7 linked regions of the Homo sapiens genome follow. The protein of the gene in region 2 interacts with the protein of the main gene of each other region in a biochemical or structural test. Each region holds a gene or a part of one and is shown on either strand. Other genes may lie near its edges.

Region 1 (3,500 bases), on a different chromosome or scaffold from region 2:
ACCTCACCCTGGGACAGGGCTCCATTCTTACAGCTCCCTCAGCTGCCACAGTTTCAGAGTCTAGGGGCAGCAGGGACAGTCCCCCAATGCCTCAGGAAAGCCCTAGGCAGTGCTGGGACCAGGGTACTGGGGCACTGCCCCATCCTATTCCGCACACAGCAGGCGCTCCAAATAGCCTTGCAGGGCTGACCTTCCAGACACAGGTAGGAGCAGGAAGATGCACACACCTTGGCCCAGTGCTTACCTGGAGCCAGGAGGTCTGCTGGGGTGTGGGCCTCTGCCCTGGCAGGCAGGGGCTGACACTCATTTTACAAATGCAGACCTGAGTCTCAGAGAGGGGAAGTGACTGGCCCAATGTCACCCACAGTGTCAATGTTGGAACAGAGGTCAGAATCTTGCTTGGCTTTGCCATAGCCCCAGCTCTTGCTTCCTGTGTTCCCTGAGCCCACCATGCGTCCCCACAGAGCCCCAGTTCACCTCTCAGCCAGGCCACGCTTGGTGAGGCCTGAGATGACAATGGGGTCAAAAGGTTCCTCCGTGCCCGAAATGGTGATGCCCAGGGGACCCCCGTAGCGCTTCAGCTCCACTGTGTAACTGACGGCACCTGTGGTCTCCAGCTCATCTGCAAGCACGGGGACCCATGAGGAGGAGGCCCCCGAGGGGGTACCCAGCTTCCTAAAGCCTTGGCCTCACTCACTCACTCATACTTATTTATTAATTCATTCACCCAGTCACTCACGCTCTGATTTCATGTAGCACAACCTGGGGACCCTGAGGCCATCTTCTGCCCAAATACCAGTAAAGAAAAGAAACATCACACCTCACCCACAATAATGACAACATTGATGACAAGAAACAGTGGCCTCTTTTCCTCCAGCAGCCAGCAGGAAGCAAAGGGAACCCCGATCATCCGTTGTTTTTTTTTTTTTTTTTTTTTTGAGACAGAGTCTTGCTCTGCTGCCCAGGCTGGAGTGCAATGGCACGATCTCAGTTCACTGCCATACCTCTGCTTCCAGGGTTCAAGTGATCCTCCCACCTCAGCCTCCCAAGTATCTGGGACTACAGGCATGCACCACCAGACCCAGCTAATTTTTGTATTTTTTGTAGAGATGGGGTTTCGCCATGTTGCCCAGGCTGGTCTCGAACTCCTGGGCTTAAGTGCTCCACCCACCTTGGCCTCCCAAAGTGAGGGGTGTACAGGTATGAGCCATTGCACCTGGCCCAACTTTTCTTAAAAGAAAAGAAAAGAAAAGAAAAGAAATCTACCTCCCACAGTAACCTTCTTTCACAGAGTCGGAGTTGGTGATTTGGAGGCTGCCCCTTTGAATCAGGGATTCACTTTCCAGTTGGCGCAGTCCTCACCCGTCCCTTTTGCCTCTCCAATCCATACAGCTTTTCTCACTCATTTATATCACTATCTGGCGTCAGTGGGGCCTGAGTCTGCAGTCTTTGCTTATCCACTCATAGCCTGCCACTCAAAAGGGCAGCCTCGCTCTTCCCCTGCCCTACCCACTCATCTCTCCACCAGCTGCACCAGCTGCACCCAGTAGGTCTCCTCTGCCAGGCTTGGTGCTAGATGTGGAGACTACGGGAGAGTCTCAAACTCCTGTCCACCTCACAGAGGCTCTGGAGGGCCCCAGACGCCGGGGACAGTGAGAAATCTGTGGTGTTGCCCCCTCCTTCATTTGTTCATTCCAGCCAGCCTTCAGCAGCGCCCACCACCCTCCCTTCCTCGGCTGGAGGGAGCCCTGAATTGCAAGCTGGGAACCCGCTAGTCAAAGGGTGGGCCTCTGGAGGTAGGAGGCCAGCATGAGGGCCATACCAGAGTTGTCCTCGTCCTTCCGGATCTTCAGCTTCACCAGGTCCTCGCACTGCCGCAGGATTTGCACGGCGTCCTCCATGGGGCAGTTGTCCAGGCGGATATTGTCAATGGCCAGTAGCTTGTCGCCTGGCTCCAGGGTGCCCGTCCTGCATGAGTCGGGGGCAGAGGGGATGGAAGGAGCCTGGTGCATGCAGGTGCCATACTCACTGCTGTTGGCCACTTCCCTTCCTGTGCCCCAGTGCCCCTACCTGTGTGCCACGCTGCCTTTCTTGATGTCGGAGATGATCAAGGGCTCCCCTCGTTTCCTGCTGGCCGCTGGAGAAAAAGAGGCCATGAATCTGACCTTGGTGGCCTCAGCCTGGGGTGGGGTGGCGAAGCCCAGGGGTCTGAGTGTGGACTCGGAGCCACTGGTCCTACTCACATCCTGGTCCCACTGCTTCCTGGCTGGGTGACCGTGAGCAAATCAGCTCACCTCCCTGTGCATCAGTTTCCCCCCTGTAAAATGGGGGTGGCACCGCAGACCTCATGGGGATGTGGTGAGAGTAAACCAGATAACACAGGCACAAGATCCAGCATGGCCCTTCCAATGCCAGCTCTTCTTTCCTCCTGCTCAGCCCATCCCCCAGCAAACTGCGAGCTCTTTGTGGAGGGGGGCTGTCTGCTTGGTGTCTGTGTCCCCAGCACCGGGCTCAGGGCCAGCACCCAGGCTCTATTGTGTGCTTGGGGGTGGGAGACACAGAAGTGAACAAAACAGACAGCAATCTCTCCCTGCCCTCCTGGAGCTGGCACTCCAGTGGTGGTCACAATCAACAACATTTAAACACCGATGAAGTGAGCTGTGGAGAAACCTGAGAAACGGGCTTGTGTCGAGGGCGGTAAATGTTCAGTCAGGTGGTCGGGGAAGGCCTTGTCAAGTGACATTTGGGCAAAGCCATGAAGGAGGTAGGGAAGAGGCCAGAGGAACGGTCTCAGATGCAAAGGCCCAGAGGCAGGAAGGGGCAGGCATGGCAGGGAGCAGCCAGGCTGACTGCGGCTGGAGGGCTTGAGTTGGGGAGAGTCGGGAGATGAGGTCAGAGGTCATGGGGTCCAGAGCACAGAGGGCCTCACTGGGGCCCGAGGCCCTCAGCTTTTACTCAGAATAAGATGGGAGCCACGGGAGTGCTTTCACCTTTCCCATGCTCACCCATTCTACGTTTTTCTTCTGCATTCCTCATTTTCATTCCTTTGACAAACATGAATTAAGCACCTACTGTGTTCCAGGCCTTTGCTGGGCTCTGAGAACACAGAAGCAGGCAGAAAACCAAACCCAGCCTAAATATTTGTCACCTTCCAATGCTCTCTCACCATGGGCACCTCACAAGCCCCCTGGGAGACCCACGAGGCCAGGGGACTGCCATGGTGCAGAACGGGAAGCTGAAGCTTTGGGAAGCTGGGGTCTCGCTGAGAACACGCAGCTGGGTCCACGGAAGCCAGCCTCCCCACACCCCCAAGCCTTTTCCTCGGGCCCCGCAGGGTGTCACGCCATGGAAATGCTGGTCTGAGCTTGGCAAGCTCTTTTTCCCCAGCAGTTGAGCTCGCTCCCAGGGGCAAACAGCAGCGGGAGGAGACTCACAGCTGATGGTGATGCCCAGCTCCACGCTGCGCTTCTTGGGCAGCTTCACGTGGAAGGTGCCACTGC
Region 2 (3,500 bases):
CTGATGCCCAGAGGCAGGAACAGATGTAGGAATTCCAGGATGCATTATGCCTCAGGAGGCTGAGGCAGGAGAATCACTTGAACTCAGGAGGCGGAGGTTGTAGTGAGCCGAGATTGCATCACTGCACTCCAGCCTGGGCCACAGAGTGAGACTGTCTCTCAAGAAAATGAAAAAGAAAGATAGAGAGAGAGAGAGAAAAAGAAAGAAAGAAAGAAAGAAAGAGAGAGAGAGAGAGAAAGAAAGAAAGAGAAAGAAAGAAGGAAAGAAAGAAAGGGAGAAAGCATTGTGTGAAGATGAGGGAAAGAAGAAAAGAAAGGAAAGAAAAGAAAGAGAAAGAAAGAAAGAAAAAGAGAAAGAAAAAAAGAAAAGAGAAAGAGACAAAAGAAAAGAAGAAAAGAAAGAAGAGAGCGAGAGGAAGGAAGGAATTGTGTGGAGATGAGTGAAAGCAGGCAGAAAGATAGCGGTCAGCCTGTGGTCCCTCCTGGCTGCCCCCATAGTGGGAAGATGTCCATGTCCTAATCCCCAGAACTGTGACTATGCTATACTACATGGCAAGGGAGGATCAAGGGTGCAGATTGAATTAGATTGCTAATCAGCCTAACTTTTTTTTATTGTTGAGATAGGGTCTCATTCTGTCATCCAGGCTGAAGTGCAATAGGGGGATCATAGCTCACTGCAGCCTTGAACTCCCAGGCTCAAGTGATTCTCCCACCTCAGCCTTCCAAATAACTGGGACCACAGGCATGAGCCACCATGCCCAGGTAAGTTTTTTTTTTTTTTTTTTTTTTTTTTTTTTTTTTTTGAGACGGAGTCTCGCTCTGTCGCCCAGGCTGGAGTGCAGTGGCGGGATCTCGGCTCACTGCAAGCTCCGCCTCCCGGGTTCACGCCATTCTCCCGCCTCAGCCTCCCAAGTAGCTGGGACTACAGGCGCCCGCCACTACGCCCGGCTAATTTTTTGTATTTTTAGTAGAGACGGGGTTTCACCGTTTTAGCTGGGATGGTCTCGATCTCCTGACCTCGTGATCCGCCCGCCTCGGCCTCCCAAAGTGCTGGGATTACAGGCGTGAGGTAAGTTTTTAAAATTTTTTGTGGAGATGAGGGTCTCGCTGTGTTGCCCAGGCTGGTCCTGAACTCCTCGCCTCAAGCGATACTCCCTCCTCGGCCTTCCAAAGTGCAGGGATTATAAGACAATCAGCTGATTTTTTTTTTTCTTTTAAGACAGAGTCTCACTCTCCCTCTGTCATCTACGCTAGTGTGCAGTGGCGAAATCTCGCTTTACTGCAATATCCACCTCCTGGATTCAAGCGATTTTCCTGCCTCAGCCTCCTGAATAGTGAGGATTTAGGCATCTGCCACCATGCCCAACTAATAGTAGAGACAGTTTCACCATGTTGGCCAGGCTAGTCTCCAACTCCTGACCTCAGGTGATCCTACCCCCTCAGCCTCCCAAACTGCTGGGATTACAGGTGTGAGCCACCCCGCCCGGCGTAATCAGCTGATCTTGAGAAAATTAACATAGACTATTTGGGGAGGAGGCAAAGTTATCACAAGGGTCCTTAACAGTGGGAGAAGCAATTGAGGAGGCCAGAGTTCATTAGAGGGAGATGAGGCTATGGGAGAAAGACACAGAGAGATGCAGGCTTGCTGTGGGAGGCTCCAGAAGCTGCAAAGGGCAAAAAAATGGATTCTTCCCTGGAGCCGCTGAAAGACAACACAGCCCTGGTGACGCCTTGATTTCAGCCCAGTGACACCCACATCAGACTTCTAATCTACAGAATTCTAACATGATAATGTCGTGTTGTTCCAGCAGCCAGATTTGTGTTTGTTGGCCCGGCAGCAGTTGGAAACTGATACAGCTCCAAGCAGCCCAAGTCAGGAGATGGGCCCAGGAGGGAGGGTAGTCCCAGCCACCTCCTAAGGGTGAGGACGGAGAGGAGCATGACACAGGGCAGCGGAGGGCATGGGAGAGATGGCAGGGAGGGAAGGACCGGGCAAAAAGGCATGGGTGCCTCCAGGCCCCACAGAGGGATAAGTCTGGGGAGAGTCAGTGACACCCTGTGGGAGGAAGTGCAGAAGGCATAGCTCTGGCAACTCACCTAGATCCACCTGTTCCACAGCAAACTCACAACTGGAACCATAGAAGGTGCTGGGGCACTGGCATTTGAGGCCATCCCACTGACCCCCATTCTGGCATCTGGTCTGGAGCTGACAGCGGTCCCCAGAAAACCCCGGAAGGCAAGCACACTGGCCCTGTTCCCAGGTGCCACCATTGTCACAGGTGCCTGGAAAACACAGAAAGAAAGGGAAGCTCAGGATAAAGCCTGACCTCAGTGACACAGGAATTTTGCAGGGGAGGAAGGAGGGGAACAGAGAGGCAGAAGGTCCAACCTGCAGTGGTGGTCAACGTGGACTGTGTGGTCATCTGAGAAGTGATGCGAGTTGTCCTGCGTGATGTAAGGGTGGTAGGAGTCTGGGTAGTGGCCACTGGTGTCTCTGAAGTCCTAGTGGTGGGTGGGGAGGGGTGTGTTGACTTGCTTGAAGTCCTCAGGATGGTCGGGAGGCTACTGCTTGGTTTCATGGTGAGCGGGATGGTAGAGACGCCAGGAAGAGGTAGGGGGATCACAGAACTGTTGCTCAGCCAGGTCTCACTGGTGGGCAGTCGAGTACTTGTGAAAACTGTGTTTGTGGGTACAGTCCCAGTGCCAGTGGAACTGGAAGCATTGGGTGAGATGCTGGACTCACTTTCTGGCATCATGGAAGAAGTGTCCATATATGTAGTAAGAGTAGTTTGGATACTGATGGAGGTAGGACAGGTGACCATTTCGGTAGTAAAGGGAAAGACTGTTAATGGGGTGGTGGGAGGAGAAGTAGCTTCAGTGCTGGGATCCATTTCAACACATGGATCAGTGGGGGAGGCAGGGACTATGGTAATTGTTATAGTTCCTGGACAGGGTGTGGTGGAGGGAAGGGAAATATAAGAAAAGGGGGTTATTTCAGTGAGAGCTGTGGTCAGAGAGGAGCTGGTTGAAGAAGTGCTGGTAGTTGCAGAGGAAGAGAGACTAGGAAAGCCTGTGATAGAAGCGGAGCCCACATTTTCTGTACTGAAAATGTATGGTGAAGAAGGAACAGAATGAATGGTAGTGGAAAACACTGGAGTTATGCTGGCAGAAGATGGAGAAGAGGACATGATAATAGTGGGTGTTGAGGACCAGATGATGGTACTAAAAGAAGTCAAGATTGCATTTGTAGACGTACTTCCCCTAGTGAAAGATTCTGTAGTGAACTCACTTGTAGATGTGAGTGAAGTTTGCAATGAGGGAGTAGAAGGAGTTGTTTGAAGGGTGGAGGAATGTGTGCTAGGAATAGGAACCTGTGATGTTGACACGATCGTGCTCAAGGCTGTTGATGGAGTAAGAGTATGAAGAGTGGACGTGGAGGAATCCGTACTTCCAAAGGTGACAGTAGTAGGTGCAGGAGATGTTTGGGTCCCAGTGGCTGAC
Region 3 (3,500 bases), on a different chromosome or scaffold from region 2:
GTGAAGTAGTTAGTGTTTTAATTACTTTGTAGAGGAGATAAGCTCAGAAGGGTTAAAAACCTTGCTCAAGGTCTAAAACCTTGTAAGGTCTGATCATTACTACCTAGACCCACCATCCCACTCCAGCAATGACCGCCTGTGCTAACTGTATTATCGCACAAAGGTGGTAATGCTTGGAGTGGACATTCATCTGCTCTTTTACCTGCGTGACATCGCTGCTGCTTGTCTTCCTTTAGACAACTGCTCTGCCTCCCTCTAAAAACCCACATAGTGTTGGAATGGGCTGCCAATCACAGTAGCCCATCACCTTACCCTGGGGTTCCACTGCTGGGCACAGTGCCAAAGCTGAGCCAGTCTTAGTCCTCTAGCCCTGGCCACAGTGACCGGGCCTCATGTGGACACATAACACTGGCCAGACCAATCAGAATCCTACCATGAGGTTTGTCTGCCTGGGCTGATTGGATAGAGCTCCCTTTCTTCCCTGGTCAGGGGCTGTGAACCTGAACAGAGGGGCCTGAGGTCATGTTCAGACCCGTGGGAAAAGCCCACAGCATCGATCCAAGAGGTCAAACGTCCCAAAGGCCAGTTTCCACCATCCATCCAAAGGTTGTGGAATATTCTAAGTCAATACATTTCTCTTTTTCTACCTAAGATGATCTGAGCTAAGTTTCTGTCATTTTGCAATAAAGGTACCCTGAAATGATACACAGATAAAATCTGCCCTTCACTTAAAAACCTCTTCTCAACCATTAATTTCAAATGACTCTGCCACTTCCTCTTAAATAACACAATTAAAACCACCTAAATTAGCCATGCAGGGTGGCATGCGCCTGTAATCTTAGCTACTAAGGAGGCTGAGGCAGGAGGATGGCTTGAGCCCAGGAGTTTGAGGCTGCAGTGAGCTATGATTGCACCACTGCACTCCACTGTCTCTAAAAAATAAGTAAATAAACAAACAAAAGAACCAAAAGAAAAACCACAACAGCTGGAGCTTTTACTTATGTCCCTTGCCCTGCTGACCCTCCAGGGCAGAGGGGATGAAGAAAAGGTGGCTGGTACCCGAAGGAAGTGGAGAGAGAACAAAAGGCCAGGCAACCTCTGCTGAATAATAAATAACCCACACCTGACAATCAGCACCCATCTGCATTAGTCCCACTAGAAAAGCCTGGCAGGGTTATTCCCTTGGGGAAAAAAAACAAACTTCCAGCTCTAATTTCTGACAGTGTACAATGCCTAAATTCAAACCTCCCACTCAGCCTAGCCATTAAGGTCCTCCAGATTACCTCTGCATCCCCAATTCCCTTCCACCCAGAGCCAAGGCCAAACCCCTGCTCTGCTCAGGCTGGGTAAACACATGGCTCCTCTCTATGGCTCAGCCTGTGCGGTCCAGCCTACGCAGCCCACACGTCCTCCCTCCATGGCTCCATGCATTCAGAGCTTCACTTCAACACCAAGTCCCAGCACATTCGTGAAGCTCTCCTCGGCTTCTCCAGCGGACGCTGCTGGCTCCATTCTCTTAAGTTTGATGAAGCAAGCCAGCCAGTTCACTAGGAAAGTAAAGAGGAGGCACAGGAGGTGTGGGGAGTGGGAACGAGAAGGAAACATCAGGCAATGAGCACGCGAGAGGTCCAGCCAAGTTCTGCCATTTCTGCCTCCCAATAGAGGCCTGGTGGGAATGACTTGAGGAGTCCCACATTTAGATGGTAATGAGAGCCACTAAAGGTGAATGAGAGTATCTGGGGAAAGTGTGTAGCATACCGAGTTTTTTATAAAAGAAAAAGCCTGTTTGTGCATCTCTATCAGTTGACCTGTCTCATAATGTCACTCTCATGAGCGTCCCATTCCCCCAACAAGGCGGCAAGCTACGGACTAGAATTACATCCTGTGCACCCCGGCCCCTGTCTACACCCCAGCCCCACCTGGGCCAGGCACTTCAATGCTCCCGGTGACAGAGGCAGGCAGTGCAGCACCATTAGCCCCATCTTACAGATGAAGATACTGAGGCTCACCCCAGGGGCAGGGAGTTGAGAATCCTCAAGGGAAAAAACTCAGGTGTTTCCCCAAATCAAAGGGAAAAAACAAAGGACTGCATGGGGCTCCAAGTGACCAAGCTAGACTTGGTTACTGGGAAAAACAAGAGACCCAACTGAGCCACTCAGAAGTAAACAATTCTGTCTTCTCCCTACCACCAGCTGGGGCAAAGGTGTTCGCTTGTTCCCCGCAGATCCATGTATCAAATCCGGGACAAAAGAAAGCTACATAATTTCAGAGTCCCACAGTGACTGGAAATGTCCTGAAATTGTAGTGGGAAGGCCTAACCAGGGAACAGGAAAAACCACCCCAGACAAGGAATCAGGGGCACTGGGCTTGGCCTTGACTCAGGCACCTTTCTGCCCTGCGACTTCTTCCTTACAGACAGGGCCCTGGAACCAAAGATCATAAGACACCACTCATCTCCCTGGGGCTGCCACAGAGTTAATGAGATATGAAGATAGGACACAAAATCCTGAATGACAATGCCCTATCAATACCGGAATAAGAGCCACACCTCCAACAAAAAAACCACAACACAGTGTGTCTCCTAGTCACTCCACACCCCCAGGCCTGAGCGTGGTAGGTTTAAATGTCTGGGGATCTAACTCAGCAAGAGTTGCCCCGATGGGTTGGGTTTGCTCACCTGCCCACCAACACCCAGGCACATGTCCTCCCCAGTTTCCTTCCAGTTCCAGGCCCCACGTGGTAGGCTGCTGCCGATGCAGACTCCCTCAGCACCCAAGTGCCAGTGGGGGATGGGCATTCTGGATCAGGAGCCCACACAGGGTGTGGAATCCATCAAGGAAGCTCCTAGGTGGGTGATGGCATCATCTCCAACAGAGAATCGGTGCCAAAGCAGCCACCCCTTGACGCTAAGGATCCCAGGGAGCCAGCTGGTTCCTCTCTCAGGCTCCGCAATGGCCTCGAACTGAGGCCAATTCAAACCCAGAGCTGCTGCCCAGAGCACAGAGTGGAAATCACTCAGGAGTGGAAGGAGGCAGGACCAAGTGCTGGGTTTTCCTGACTATGGCTCCTCAAGGAAGAAGACTTCCATTCCTTCAGCCAGAGCCGCTCTCTTATGCACTGAGCTTTGACCATAAGGAATACTTCCTGGCTAAAAGAAAAAAAAGCAAAAAAGTGGAGACCTACAACACAGCAATTTACCCTTCACAAAGGAGCCTCCCCTGCGCCGGGGCAGTGGCTCACGCCTGTAATCCCAACACTTTTGGGAGGCTGAGGCAAGCAGATCGCTTGAGCTCAGGAGTTCGAGACCATCCTAGACAACATGGAGAAATGCCATCTCTACACAATATACAAAAATTAGCTGGTGTGGTGGCATGTGCCTGTGGTCCCAGCTACTTGCGGGGCTGAGGCAGGAGGATGGCTTGAGACCAGGAGGCGGAGGCTGCAGTGAGCCGAGATTGTGCCACTGCACTCCAGCCTGGGTGACACAGTGAGACCCTGTC
Region 4 (3,500 bases), on a different chromosome or scaffold from region 2:
TGCCCTGCCCTAAAGGATGGTATCTTTCTGGATTCTTCCCCTGAAAGTCTGTTTCTAGTGACTCCTAGTGTTTGATTTCCAAATTGCTTTCAGCTGATTATTTCCAGTGTCTTCAAAAAGTTATCTGTTTCTTTTTTTTTTTTTCAGACAGAGTCTCGCTCTGTCACCCAGGCTGGAGTGCAGTGGCGCAATCTCGGCTCACTGCAACCTCCGCCTCCCAGGTTCAGGTGATTCTCCTGCCTTAGCCTCCCGAGTAGCTGGGATTACAGGTGCCCGCCACCACACCCAGCTAATGTTTGTATTTTTAGAAAAGACGGGTTTCTCCATGTTGGCCAGGCTGGTCTCGAACTCCTGACCTCAGGTGATCCCCCCCGCTCGGCCTCCCAACGTGCTGGGATTACAGGCGTGCACCACCACACCTTGCTAATTTTTTGTATTTTTAGTAGAGACGGGGTTTCTCCATCTTGGTCAGGCTGGTCTCGAACTCCCGACCTCAGGTGATCCATCCGCCTCGGCCTCCCAAAGTGCTGGGATTACAGGCATGAGCCACCACACCCGGCCGACATTAAGTTCTTTCTAGGAATTGTGTGTTTCTAATCTACCTCTAGATGACTGTTTTCTTTTCTCTTTTCTTTTCTCTTCTCTTTTTTCTTTTCTTTTCTTTCTTTTTGATATGGAGTGTCGCTCTGTCACCCAGGCTGGAGTGCAGTGGCGGGATCTTGGCTCACTGCAACCTCCACCTCCCGGGTTCAAGTGATTCTCCTGTCTCAGTCTCCTGAGTAGCTGGGACCACAGGCGCCCACCACCACGCCCTGCTAATTTTTGTATTTTTAGTAGAGACAGGGTTTCACCATGATGGCCAGGCTGGTCTTGAACTCCTGACCTCAACTGATCTGTCTGCCTCTGCCTCCCAAAGTGCTGGCATTACAGGCGTGAGCCACCGCGCCCCACTCTAGATATCTGTTTCTAGTTATCTCCCAGAAGATTGTGTGTTTCTAGTATCTTTTAAGTATCTGATACTCCCTCTTCTCCAGTTAGAGTTGTTTATAATGTCACCCTCACATCTGTTCCTAGTATCCCCTGAGACATTTCCACTTTTGGTAAGAAAGGAGAGTCAACCTGTTTCTCATTTTCCCCAGTGTCTCCCACCCCTCTTAGAACATTTTCTGTTTCTAGAATTCGGTGCTCAGTTCTTGGTGTGGTCTCCACTCACAGCAGGAATCCAATTCAACACTTTCCTTAGGGAGTGGCTGTTTTTAGCAACCTCTGGGGGAATTGTCTGTTTCAAGTTCCCCCACACCAGGCTGTTTCTACTGTCTCCCATCTCTCATTAACTCACTTCCGCTCTTTCATTCCTGGTCCCTTTCAGATCAACGGGGTGTCTAGCCAGAACCTGTCACTGAACGACACCCGGCGACTGATTGAGAAGTCAGAAGGGAAGCTAAGCCTGCTGGTGCTGAGAGATCGTGGGCAGTTCCTGGTGAACATTCCGCCTGCTGTCAGTGACAGCGACAGCTCGCCATTGGAGGGTGAGGACCTAGAGGTTAGGACCTGGGAGGGGGTTGAATGGATGGCAGGGAAGGTGGGAAGCCCCAGGCAGGGCCAAGGAATCAATGAGCCTGGTCCCTAGAGGCTCAGAGAGTGACAGGAACTTGCTGAAGGCCACACAGCAAGTCAAGAGTTCAGGGGGGCGATCTCGGCTCACTGGGTTCAAGCGATTCTCTGCCTCCTGGGTTCGAGCGATTCTCGTGCCTTGGCCTCCTGAGTAGCTGGGATTATAGGCGTGAGCCACCGTGCCCAGCTCCAGAGCCGAATCTTCTAACTGAGCTTCTGACTTTGGTCTAGGGCCCTTTGTTTAGAGGGGTGTTGATATACCCCTCTGTAAAATGGGTCCAGTCCAGAAGGCGTGACCATGGCTGATGAGATGTCCTCTCCCCCTGCAGACATCTCGGACCTCGCCTCGGAGCTATCGCAGGCACCACCATCCCACATCCCACCACCACCCCGGCATGCTCAGCGGAGCCCCGAGGCCAGCCAGACCGACTCTCCCGTGTAAGTATCACCCATCGGCCAGAATGGTGATAGGGAGGGAGAGGGAGGTGGGAGGGAGAGGGGAACGCGGGCGTAGCTTTCCAACTGGGGGTAACCTTGAGGACGCAGTCCTGTATTTCTAGCATGTGCCTCAAAATACCTCCAGCCTCTACCCATTACCCAGTTCCAAAGCCGTGTCCGCATTTGTAGGTGTTGGTTACAGCAGCACCCCACTTCTTAGTATCAAACTCTGCCTTAGGCCAGGTGCGGTGGCTCACGCCTGTAATCTCAGCACTTTGGGAGGCCGAGGAGGGTGGATCATCTGAGGTTAGGAGTTCGAGAACAGCCTGGCCAACGTGGTGAAACCCTGTCTCTACTAAGATACCAAAATTAGCCCGGCGTGGTGCCGGGTGCCTGTAAGCTCAGCTACTTGGGAGGCTGAGGCAGGAGAATCACTTGAACCCAGGAAATGGAGGTTGCAGTGAGCCGAGATCGTGTCATTACACTGCAGCCTAGGCAACCAGAGCAAAACTCTGTCTTAAAAAAAAAAATTTCTTTTTCCTCTATTTATTTATTTGTTTTGAGACTGAGTCATGTGAGACTGGCTAATTTTCATATTTTTGGTAGAGATGGGGTCTGTATTGCCCAGCTATGTTGCCCAGGCTGGTCTTGAACTCCTGGGCTCAAGCATTTGGCCTGCCTCAGCCTCCCAAAGTGCTGGTATTACAGGCGTGAGCCACCACGCCCAGCCCAGATAAATTAAAATTATTTTTATTTTGTTTATTTATTTATTTATTTTTTTGGAGACAAGGTCTCACTCTGTCGCCCAGGCTGGAGTGCAGTGGCATGATCTTGGCTCACTGCAACCTCTGCCTCCCGGGTTCAAGCAATTCTCCTGCCTTAGCCTCCTGAGTAGCTGGGATTACAGGCGCCCACCATCATGCCCGGCTAATTTTTGTATTTTTGGAGAGACGGGGTTTAACCTCGTTGGCCAGGCTGGTCTTGAAATCCTGACCTCAGGTGATCTGCCCACCTCGACCTCCCAAAATGCTAGGATTACAGGCATGAACCACCGTGCCCGGCCTAAAATTCTTTTTAAAATGGCCCCTTGAAATCCATCCCTGCCTCACTCCCAATCTGTTCCCCACCAGGGAGAGTCCCCGGCTTCGGCGGGAAAGTTCAGTAGATTCCAGAACCATCTCGGAACCAGATGAGCAACGGTCAGGTGGGTGGTGACTCTGAGCACCCCTGTCCCTGACATTTCTGATCCCTGACAGCAAGGCTGTGCCAGGCAGAGCTGGGGGAGGTTGGCCTGAGCCTAAGTGGTGAGACATGGTTTCCTGAGAAGGACTCGAGGTGGGTGACAGTCCTTCCAGGATGAGGACATAAAGCAAAGGTTTGGAGGCTGGACTGAGCCAGTGTGCTTGGGAAAGAGACTGGCTTTTCCCTTTCAGAGTTGCCCAGGGAAA
Region 5 (3,500 bases), on a different chromosome or scaffold from region 2:
GCAATTCTCCTGCCTCGGCCTCTCAAGTAGCTGGGATTACAGGTGTGTGCCACCACGTCTGGCTAATTTTTGTATTTTTAGTAGAGACGGGGTTTCACCATGTTGCCCAGGCTGGTCTTGAACTCCTGAGCTCAGGTGATTCGCCCACCTCAGCCCCCAAAGTGCTAGGATTACAGGTGTGAGCCACCGTACCAGGCCCTTCATGGATATAATTTATTAGTGAAAAGATACAAAGCCAAATCAGCAAAACAAACTGGCATTCAGAGCGAAGTCTGCAGGAAACCAGGCACAAGCTTCCAAGGGTCTTCCCTTAGTGGAGAGGACTTGCTTAATTCCCCCAGCAGTGAGTTCTTACCACATGTGCGAAATGTTGCCTACCAGGAACACTCATTAGTGACTAAGCACCCAAGGTTTTTACTGCAGACTGATCACATAGGCACCTTCTGCTTAGCATATACAAAAATTCCAGACTCCCAGAAAAAGAGCAGGTGTTCAGCATAAGCCATATTGTTTGCAGAAACAGTTTTGCACAGTGAGCCATTCCGATAAGGGAATGATGGTAGCCCTCCACAAATCTAACTTTCCAGATGCCACCAGCCAAGGCCCCGCTTCGCAAGCAGGGCTTTCTAAGGATAGCAGTCTCAGGCCTGCTACATTAACTTTTTCTGCACAGATAGTCAGATCATGTAGCACTTCCAAGGCCATTTAGGAGAGATGTGCACCATTGGAAGATCTTCAGTAGAAGAATGACATGACCTGATTATAATTTTAAATTATCACTCTAGCTTTTGTGTTAAGGAGAGACAGTAATGTGGGAGTCTCGGGGGCAGAAATGGAGACACTAAAGTCTATTTAAAGAAAAAAATAATAAAAATCAAGCTCCAGTATACTAACAGGAAAGAGACTGAAAAGTAGTCAGATTCCAAATCTAGTATGAGAGCAGAGTCAACCAGATTTGCAGAATGACTGTATGTGGATCATGAGAGAAAAACATTGGTCAAGGGTGATGACAAGCATTTCTGGTGAACAGCTAGAAAGATGGCCTTGCCATTTAATGACATGCTTAGATTGTAGGAGGACTTGATTTGGAGTTGGGGATTAGGAATTCATTTGGGGGCATGCTATAAGTGTAAGATGCCTACCAGATGTCCAGGCAAAGGGTCAAGAAAGCCGTATATAGAGCTGGCAGTTCAGGGAAGACACCTGGGCTGGAACTACCCCAGTGGTATTTGGAACCACATTACTGTAAGCAGAGAGAGACAGGTGGAGACTTAAGAATTGAGTCCTGGGGTACTGTAGTGCTAAGACGTAGAGGAGGAAAGAAGGAACAACCAAAGAGCCTGAGAATGGACAATAGATAGGAAAAAAGTCAGGAGAGTGTAGGTTCCAGGAAGCATGTGCTTAAGATGTTTAGTATTTTTAAAATTTTTTTATTTCCATAAATTATTGGGGAACAGGTGGTGATTCATTACATGACTAAGTTCTTTAGTGGTGATTTGTGAGATTTTGGTGCATCCATCACCTGAGCAGTATGCACGGCACCCAGTTTGTGGTCTTTTATCCCTCATGCCCTTCCCACCCTTTCTCCCTGAGTCCCTGAAGTCCTTTGTGTCAGTGAGAACTCCCACTTATGAGTGAGAACATACAATGTTTGGGTTTCCATTCCTGAGTTACTTCACTTGCCGTAATAGTCTCCAATCTCATCCAGGTTGCTGCAAATGCCATTAATTCAGTCTCTCTTTTAATGGCTGAGGTGTATTCCTTTATATATATGTGTGTATATATATATATATATATATATATATATATATATATATATATATGGATATATATAAATATATATCCATATATATGTATATAGCCATATATATACATATATATGTATATAGCCTTATATATACATATATATATATACACACACACACACACACACACACCCCACAGATTCTTTACCCACTCGTTGACTGGTGGGCATTTGGGTTGGTTCCACGCTTTTGCAGTTGCAAAGTGTGCTGCTAAACATGCATGTGCAAGTATCTTTTTCATATAATGACTTATTTTCCTCTAGGTAGATACCCAGTAGTGGGATTGCCGGATCAAATGGTAGTTCTACTTTTAGTTCTTTAAGGAACCTCCACACTATTTTTCATAGTGGTTGTACTAGTTTACATTCCAACCAGAAGTGTTCACTGTTCACCACATCCACACCAACACCTATTTTTTTAAAATTTTTTGATGATGGCCATTCTTGCAGGAGTGAGGTGGTATCACATTGTGATTTTGAGTTGCACTTCCCTGATCATTAGTGATGTTGAGCATTTTTTTCTTGTTTGTTGGCCATTTCTATATCTTCTTTTGAGAATTGTCTATTCATGTCCTTGGCCCTCTTTTTGATGGGATTGTTTGGTTTTTTTCTTGCTAATTTGTTTGAGTTCATTGTAGATTCTGGATATTAGTCCTTTGTCAGATGTATAGATTGCAAAGATTTTCTCCCACTCTGTGGGTTGTCTGTTTACACTGCTGACTGTTCCTTTTGCCATGGAAAAGCTCTCATTTCAAACTATACTATAAGACCATAGTCACCAAACAGCACGGTACTAGTATAAAAATAGGCCCATAGACCATTGGAACAGAAATAGAGAACCCAAAAATAAACCCAAATACTTACAGTCAACTGATTTTCAACAAAGCAAACGAAAACATTAAGTGGGGAAAGGACACCCTATTCAACAAATGGTGCTGCGATAATTGGCAAGCCACATGTAGGAGAATGAAGCTGGATCCTCACCTCTCAACCTTACACAAAAATCAACTCAAAGTGGATCAAGGATTTAAATCTAAGACCTGAAACTACAACATTCTGTAAGATAACATTGGAAAAACCCTTCTAGACATTGGCTTAGGCAAGGATTTCATGACCAAGAACCCAAAAGCAAATGCAATAAAAGCAAAGATAAATAGCTGGGACTTAATTGAACTGAAGGTGTTTAGTATTTCTATCAGTCGAGAAGCATCTAAATCTCACTAAAAATGGCCCAGATTTTTGTTCACTGCTCCTTCTTGGCCCACTCTCCACCCAGTACCAGAGACAGAGGATGTACATCCTCAGCCTGTTGCACCAAAGGTGTAAACTGAGGCCAACCTGGGCTTACTCTCAAACCCAGCTAGTTTTTGTGCTAGTGTCTAGGTGGAGCATTTAAGGTTTAAAGGCTCTCTCTACCACCTGTGGATACCAAAGAGTGGCTGAAGATCCCTTTCTGATGGCAAAGTTCTCAACAGAACTGAGTAGCAATGTCAAGTTAAGGACTGCCTGGGATCTGGTCTTTAAGCCAGTGGTTTCCAAAAGCAGCTGACAGAACCCATCAGAAGAGCATTGGATCTGAACTGTCCACTAAGGCAAGCCATTTGTGGCGATTTACATTTAAATTAAAATTTAAAATTCAGTTCCTCAGTTGCACTAGGCACATTTCAACTACTTAACAACCACATATGTCTAGTGG
Region 6 (3,500 bases), on a different chromosome or scaffold from region 2:
TAACGCCTCACTGGCCGTGGGGTTGCCTTCTGACTTCTCAGTGAGACACACCTGGAGCCTAGGATAGGGTCCCTGCTCCCGTCTGGTTCCCCTTTGGCACTCTGCCATAATCAGGACCGGCTTCCTGGGTGTGTGTCCTGAGTGTGTGACCCTGTGTCATAGCACAGGGTCCTGCACTTAGTTTAATGCTCTGCTATCACTGTCCTGGAATTCTTAATAATTTTGAACAAGGGACCCCACATTGCTATTTTCCCCCAGGCCCCTGTCCTGCTCATAATCCCCTTCCCTTCAGATGCATGTCAGCTCATCTGCATCTTCGTGCCTTTGTACACACGGATCCCTTCACCAGCACCTCACTCCCCACTTTCCTCTTGGTTAACTCTAGCCTTGGCTAAGCCCCTTCCTCTACATTAGTGCCATGGCCTGTGCTTCCCAAGGTGAAAGTCCTTGTCATCCTCTATGGTCTTTGTCTCTTTTAGTGACCGTCTCTCTCATCACACCATTATTTTCCTGAAGGCAGGGACTGTATCTGGTGTGGCTGTGCAGCACCAGGCACAAAAGACGCCTGGATTTACTGTGACGGCAGGACTCAGCAGCTTGGCTGTACACAGAGATAGGTGCTCACAGCTGATGCTCCCCAGCAAGAAGCGGTAGTGCAGCCTTTATCTGGAAAGTGACCTGCAGTGTGTGTTGAGCTTGAGAAAAAGTCTGATTTTGAATCTGAATTTGAGGACTTTCTCCTATGAATTGTGGTCATTTAAATGCATGAGGGAAATGCTTATAAGATGCTTCTGTTTTCTTTTGCTCGATGTGTACACGTGACATAAAGTTCAACCAACAACGATTGAGCATTTGTGCTGACTGCTGGCTGTTCCGAAGTGAACAGGAATAGGCCACAGTCTGTATGTTCCAGGAGCTCACATTCCAGGGGAAAGGCCAAGTGAGACCCCCTGAGTGATTGGATACAATGACAAGCTACGCAGGTGAACTTGAGTGAAAGGCTGACCTCTGGTTTGATTTGGGGTGCTTGGCACAGGTGGAAATCCATCTTGTCAAAGCATCTAGTTTTCATGAGCATTCCAAGCATGTGCTTGGGCAGAAGGATGTTCTGGTTTAGAAAGCAGCAGACAACACAGAATTGCTGCAGAGATGATTGCTCCGCACTTTGCGGCCTCAGTGATGGATCTTGTGTCTGTCCTTAAACTCTCCAGAAGGGGCAGGCATCTGCTCTGGTGCTTGTGGGAACACCCGTTTCCATGTCTCCAAGGCCTGCCTGACAAGGTGCTGGCCTCGTAGTGGCAGCTCTGGCTGCTCTCTCCTCTCACCGGCCCTGTCTGCCTCCAGCCCCTGCAGCTCTGCGAGCCCCTGCACTCCATCCTGCTGACCATGTGTGAAGACCAGCCTCACAGGCGGTGCACGTTGCAGTCGGTTCTGGAAGCTTGTCGGGTTCATGAGAAAGAAGTGTCTGTCTACCCAGCCCCTGCTGGTCTCCACATCAGAAGGCTGGTTGGCTTGGTTCTGGGTACCATTTCTGAGGTCAGTAGAGAACCGTGCTTTTCAAGCAGTAGCTGCTGGTCATGTGTGGCTATTAAAATTTGAATTAGTTATATTATCATTAACTAAAATAAAATAAAAAATTAAATTAATCAGTCACATCTGTCACATTTCAAGTGCTCCGTTGCCACTCGTAGCAGGTGATGACCCTATTGAACAGGGTGGATCTAGAACATTCTTGTCATTGCAGTTCTATTGGGCAGTGCTAACAAAGACCTTTAGGCAAGCCCCAGTTTGTCACATGGCTAAGACCCTTGACATCTTTGCAAGTGCGTCCTTACATAAAGCAATAATGTTTAGAACCCATGATTCAGTTTTCTTATCAAAATTCAACTCTAGGTTCTGCACAGAAGCCTTCCCCGACTTCGTTTTTGTGGTCCCTGGGTACCCTCCCCTCTGCTATTTTATACCTGTGGGGTGTCCTTTGTTGTGCTTGTCACACTGTGCTGCTTGCTGCCCTGTGCACTCCACAGAGTGCAGCAAGGGGCCTGGCACATGGGAGGCATTTGGCTTAGGTTGGATTCCCTCCAAGCTAACCCAGAGACAGGGATTCTTGTGCAAGTTATTTACTGGGGAAATGTTCCTGGGAGAGGGGAGTGATGGTAGTACAGCTGACAAGTTGAAGGATATAGTCTCAGCTGGAGACAGGCCCAGCCTGGCCCCCTGGGGAGCTCTGTTGCAGGAATGGCACCATGGAGTTGGTCCCCCATGAGACCTGAGTGGAGCTGGGATAGGATGGGCAAGTGAGGTGCCTATGGCACAAAATGTAAGGAAGTTTGTATTTGGGAGGAACCAGAGACAGGTAAGCTAGAGGCCAGTTGAGTGGCTGCACTTGTCCAGGGACAAGTTGGAGAGCTGAGAGCAGGATTAATGAGGGCCAAAGTGGATGGAGATGTGGGGACAGCAGGGTGGACAGCGGCAACAGTCAATCAGAGAAGGCCTCTGCCATCAGAGAAGGCCTCCTTCTTGGACCCCTTCTCTCTTGGCATAGGAACATGTGGCTCCTATGAATTGAGCCAGAGGATTTGGTGGGGGAAATGGACTATATTTATTTGAAAGATACTGAGGTCTACCATCCACTGGTGTGCCATTGTCCTTGGATAGACAGTGTACTGACCTGCAACATTTCCGTCAGGGATCTGCAAGGTAGATGTCAGTCACGTATTCAACATTCATTGGGCACTGCATTAGGTGTGCTACGGTGGTGCATAAAGCACACAGAGATGTTGGGGGAGACAGACAAGCAGCACACTCATGGAACATGATGCAACAGAGCCAGGTGTGAGTGCAGTGATAAGGGAAGGTGATCAGACGGCAGAGGTAGAGAGGCTTAGAAGTAGAAAGCACACAGCTCTGGGTCTTGTGGGCACAGAGGAGCTTCTGGGGAGGCTGTAGCCATGGAGGGAATGCATGAGCAAAGGCACAGATGTGTGTGAGTGTGCAGGTCTGGAGTGGGGAGTGAAGTGCCTTCAGGGTGCATGCAGGGGGTGGGCACAGAGCACATTCTGGGTGCCAGAGAACACATCTTTAGGTCACCGTATAGGGCAGACAATTCCACATTGATTCAGTCTGACAGCCAGTTTGCATGTATCTATAAAAACGCCCCCTCCTTATCTTGGGATGTGGATGTGTGATGCACTTGACCCCCAGGTGGAGAAAAGAGTTGTGGAGGAAAGCTCCTCTGTGCAGCAGAACAGAAGCTACCTGCTCAGGAAGAGGCTGCGTGGGACAAGCAGCGAGAGCCCAGCGGCACAGGCCCCGGAGTGTCTGCATCCTTGCAGAGGTGGGTACGTGCCCTAAGCAGTCCCTGCGTGGGCTGATGGTACCCATTCTATTTTTTCCTGCCCTGTATGGGCTACACATCCACATTGTGATGGCAGAGAAAGCCTATGTAAGTGCCACTCTTTCAGGAAGCCCCTGAAGAGAAGGGGCTGAGCTTAGGACTC
Region 7 (3,500 bases), on a different chromosome or scaffold from region 2:
GGTGAAACCTCATCTGTACTAAAAATACAAAAATTAGCTGAGCATGATGGCGTGCACTTATAGTCCCAGCTACTCAGGAGGCTGAGGCAGGAGAATCGCTTGAGCCCAGGAGGCAGAGGTTGCAGTGAGCTGAGATTGTGTCACTGCACTCCAGCCTGGGCGACAGAGTGAGACTCTATCTTAAAATAATAATAATAATAATGATAATAATAAGAATAGACAGGGCACGGTGGCTCATGCCTGTAATCCCAGAACTTTGGGAGGCCGAGGCAGGTGGATCACGAGGTCAGAGTTTAAGACCAGTCTGACCAACATGGTGAAACCCTGTCTCTATTAAAAATACAAAAATTAGCTGGGCATGGTGGTGGGCATCTGTAATCCCAGCTACTCAGGAGGCTGAGGCAGGAGAATCAATTGAACCCGGGAGGCGGAGGTTCCAGTGAGCTGAGATTGTGCCACTGCACTCCAGCCTGAGCGACAGAGCAAGATTCCGTATATATATATATAATAAAATACATATAATAATGTTGAGAATAGGAAGATAATTAAACAAATCAGTAAACTGAAAACAAAATTATATCAGGCAGATAAATGACATGAGTGTAACATAAAAAATCTAGAATACATTGAACTTGTTTTTGTAAAATGGGAAAAAGACAATAAAAATAATATACTAATCACACTGTGATCTTTTACTAGTTATGAATCCATTAAGGACAGCAGTTCTGCTCATTTTTCTTTTTATTCTCAGTTTCAAGTGGGGTACTTGGAACATATTAGGAGTTCAAAGTGTTTAGTTGAATGAATATGTGACTTCAAGGCAAAATGATGTTAATAATCTCAAACTATGCTATGAGAAATGTTGCACAAGTTATACTATGGGAAATGTGTCAACAGCAGCCATAAGACCAAGGATAATCTCTACGATTATTCAGAATATACAGGTGTAATCACGCCATCCAGTACGCAAATAAAACTGATGGCTTACATCATGTCATCTTCATCCTATAGTGATAGCCTAAGTATTCAAATAGATACATTAATATTTTAGAGTAAAAAAAATTACTTATTGGGGAAGCTACCTCAGTTTGTTTTCAGCTGGCATATTGATAAGCAACACACATTTTTTACTCTTAAATTTCTGCAATTAGTTTGAAGTAGTGCCTGGGTCAACATTTGAATACTACTGTACTGTATTAACAATTGTCCCCAAGCTTCCCAAACTGGATATATTCTTAATGGAAAAACATTTTATTTATTCCCTCTGCTTCATTTGAGATGATCATTTGCTCTAAAAAATTACCATGATAGAGATGATGGATTAAACCCTTTGATTTTGTTTTCATCTTCATTTATGGTTACACATTAAAAAAAGAACAAGCAACATATCAAATGATGTAGTTCAAATTGTTGGCCCTACCTGCTCCACCTCATTGGCAGTGGGCTGCATTGCTTCATTATGCTCTTCTTCCAACATCTCCAAGTTTAACTCCTCTAAGAATTCATTCCTTTCATCTTCCAGCCAGCCTTCATCCAGCTGCAAAAGAATACATTAGTACATTATATTATGTTAGTGAGAACTCATGTTAAAATAGAGTAAACTTAAATGGCCGGTGCCCGACGAGTTCCTTTTATCATAATGATTCTCTTCAGAATACCAGCCTCCCACAGTTCACCTCTCAGAAAGAAGAAAAGGTGATAAAAAAAAAAAAAAAGGACTCTTATGCCTTTTATCCTTTCCTGAAATGGGACTACAGATTTTCTCTCATAACCAAGTAAATCTCACAGCACAGAATATTACCTTCTTTCAAAATGTATGAAAAGCATCCTGCATAATCCACAGCTGTCATGCTCATTACCTCCAACAGTCCCGTGTTAAAAGGACTGCCATGCTACTAATTGGGCTATGAGACAATTGGGCTGTTTTCTTTAACAACAACCCCCAACGAGACTGCACACAAAGTTCCCCCCATACGCTCGTGCTATCCTCATCCTGCTTTTTTCTTTTTAGGTGGGCTCCCATGTCAACAAGATGGCTGCTTGCCACAAAAGAATGTACAGAAGACATTTATTTTGTCTGTGAAGAAAGGAAAATTCTAAGTTATTCTTCTCAAGGAAAGGAAAGAAAAGCAATATTACTCCATGTCTATTTTAATTTGTTTTCAGGCCCAATTTTATAGGAAAAACACCTCAGTGGATGCGACATTTAAGGGTGGTGGAGTGGTGTGGGGCATGCAGGGTTTTGTTTATGGGTGTTGAAAACAAGTATTCTTGTAGGACTCTTAATGCAAATTGAACTGAACAAATCCCTTCGGCTTTTCAATACAAAGTGAAGTGGAAAACTGGTGGTTACCTGGCTAATATGATCTAATATGATCAGTGTTGACAGTTACTACAGATAATTTGCCTCAAAGTGGATTTTTGGAGCTGGATTACATAAATTAGCTGTCTATGCTGATTAAATTAACTGGATTATCGTCAAAACTCTGCATCACCCTGTACAAAGAAATAGCATTCTAGTGAGCAAACATGGATAATAGTTTGAGATATTTTCACCACCAATGAACTGGCAAAATAAGCTTTTAAACATAACTGAACTTCTACAACTTAAAAACAAACTGGAAAGGACATTCAGCTGCACCAAAAGAGGCATTAGCATACAGGTATCATCTTTATTAATATGCAGGCAAATCATAGATTTCATGATATCTATTAAAGGCCATGTAGAACTTAAATGACCTCAAACTTAACTGGGGCCCAAAGTGCTGGCACATTTGTTCATCCTCATTTATCTTAATGTCGCCTGAATAATTTGATCAAATTCCTGTGACTTTGATATGCAGATGAGCTATGAAAATTATGCCAAGTAAAAATGTAAATTCAGCCCAATTTATAATTGTTCAAATTTTACATTCTTTAATCTTTTTCAAGTATCATAAAGCTACAAATGCCAGACATCATAAAAAATTACTTAAAATGGGGAGTGCTTACTATTCACAAACACATCAAGGAATTTTTCTTTAATCAGGTCAAAATAAAGTATTTTCTAACACTGATATATTGAATGATGAAACAGAGTCCTTTGAGGATTAAATGAAGTAGTGGGGAAAATAAAGAGAAAATGGTCAAAATTAATGATTCCCCATAACTCTTTTCTTATTGAGTAATCCAGTAGATTCCTGAGTTGCCAGCCATAGTCATTATATGTCTATTTTGATAAGGCTTTCTTTTAGGCTGGAGGTGCACACAGCACAATTAGCAAAGGGAGATTCTTCTTGCTCACTTCCTTCTTCTCTCCTATTTCCCCCTTTCTACCTAGATGTACATTCACTATGGTCTGAGTCTAATGTAACGGCAGAGACAGACATCTCCCTTGAGCTGAGCTGCAGGAAAAGAGGGATTGTTACTACTAAGAGTGGGGATCTATCTGCACCAAAGGGGGCCACATGTGGCATCTCAGAAAAAGGAACAACCTACACTGTCTCAAAGGTAGTGGCTAC

Evidence for each region.
Region 1: the proteins of MUC3A (region 2) and GRIP2 interact in a test that uses a peptide from one of them, tested with the Homo sapiens proteins (one large-scale study listed by IntAct).
Region 3: the proteins of MUC3A (region 2) and DLG5 interact in a test that uses a peptide from one of them, tested with the Homo sapiens proteins (one large-scale study listed by IntAct).
Region 4: the proteins of MUC3A (region 2) and TJP3 interact in a test that uses a peptide from one of them, tested with the Homo sapiens proteins (one large-scale study listed by IntAct).
Region 5: the proteins of MUC3A (region 2) and PARD3B interact in a test that uses a peptide from one of them, tested with the Homo sapiens proteins (one large-scale study listed by IntAct).
Region 6: the proteins of MUC3A (region 2) and FRMPD2 interact in a test that uses a peptide from one of them, tested with the Homo sapiens proteins (one large-scale study listed by IntAct).
Region 7: the proteins of MUC3A (region 2) and PDZRN4 interact in a test that uses a peptide from one of them, tested with the Homo sapiens proteins (one large-scale study listed by IntAct).

The regions. Positions count from the first base shown.
Region 1 is NC_000003.12:14,509,343-14,512,842, forward strand, and holds part of GRIP2 (glutamate receptor-interacting protein 2), read right to left. Parts: coding exon 3,435-3,500; exon of another isoform or gene 3,097-3,434; coding exon of another isoform or gene 3,095-3,096; exon of another isoform or gene 2,351-3,094; intron 2,138-2,350; coding exon 2,071-2,137; intron 1,969-2,070; coding exon 1,823-1,968; intron 623-1,822; coding exon 478-622; intron 1-477.
Region 2 is NC_000007.14:100,959,534-100,963,033, reverse strand, and holds part of MUC3A (mucin-3A precursor), read right to left. Parts: coding exon 2,389-3,500; intron 2,283-2,388; coding exon 2,097-2,282; intron 762-2,096; exon of another isoform or gene 719-761; intron 1-718.
Region 3 is NC_000010.11:77,920,256-77,923,755, forward strand, and holds part of DLG5 (disks large homolog 5), read right to left. Parts: intron 1-3,500. UniProt on the Homo sapiens protein: Acts as a regulator of the Hippo signaling pathway.
Region 4 is NC_000019.10:3,732,384-3,735,883, forward strand, and holds part of TJP3 (tight junction protein ZO-3), read left to right. Parts: intron 1-1,369; coding exon 1,370-1,529; intron 1,530-1,943; coding exon 1,944-2,052; intron 2,053-3,182; coding exon 3,183-3,256; intron 3,257-3,485; coding exon 3,486-3,500. UniProt on the Homo sapiens protein: TJP1, TJP2, and TJP3 are closely related scaffolding proteins that link tight junction (TJ) transmembrane proteins such as claudins, junctional adhesion molecules, and occludin to the actin cytoskeleton.
Region 5 is NC_000002.12:204,551,975-204,555,474, reverse strand, and holds part of PARD3B (partitioning defective 3 homolog B), read right to left. Parts: intron 1-3,500. UniProt on the Homo sapiens protein: Putative adapter protein involved in asymmetrical cell division and cell polarization processes. May play a role in the formation of epithelial tight junctions.
Region 6 is NC_000010.11:48,240,197-48,243,696, reverse strand, and holds part of FRMPD2 (FERM and PDZ domain-containing protein 2), read left to right. Parts: intron 1-1,344; coding exon 1,345-1,536; intron 1,537-3,204; coding exon 3,205-3,337; intron 3,338-3,500.
Region 7 is NC_000012.12:41,565,820-41,569,319, reverse strand, and holds part of PDZRN4 (PDZ domain-containing RING finger protein 4), read right to left. Parts: intron 3,490-3,500; exon of another isoform or gene 3,014-3,489; intron 1,538-3,013; coding exon 1,421-1,537; intron 1-1,420.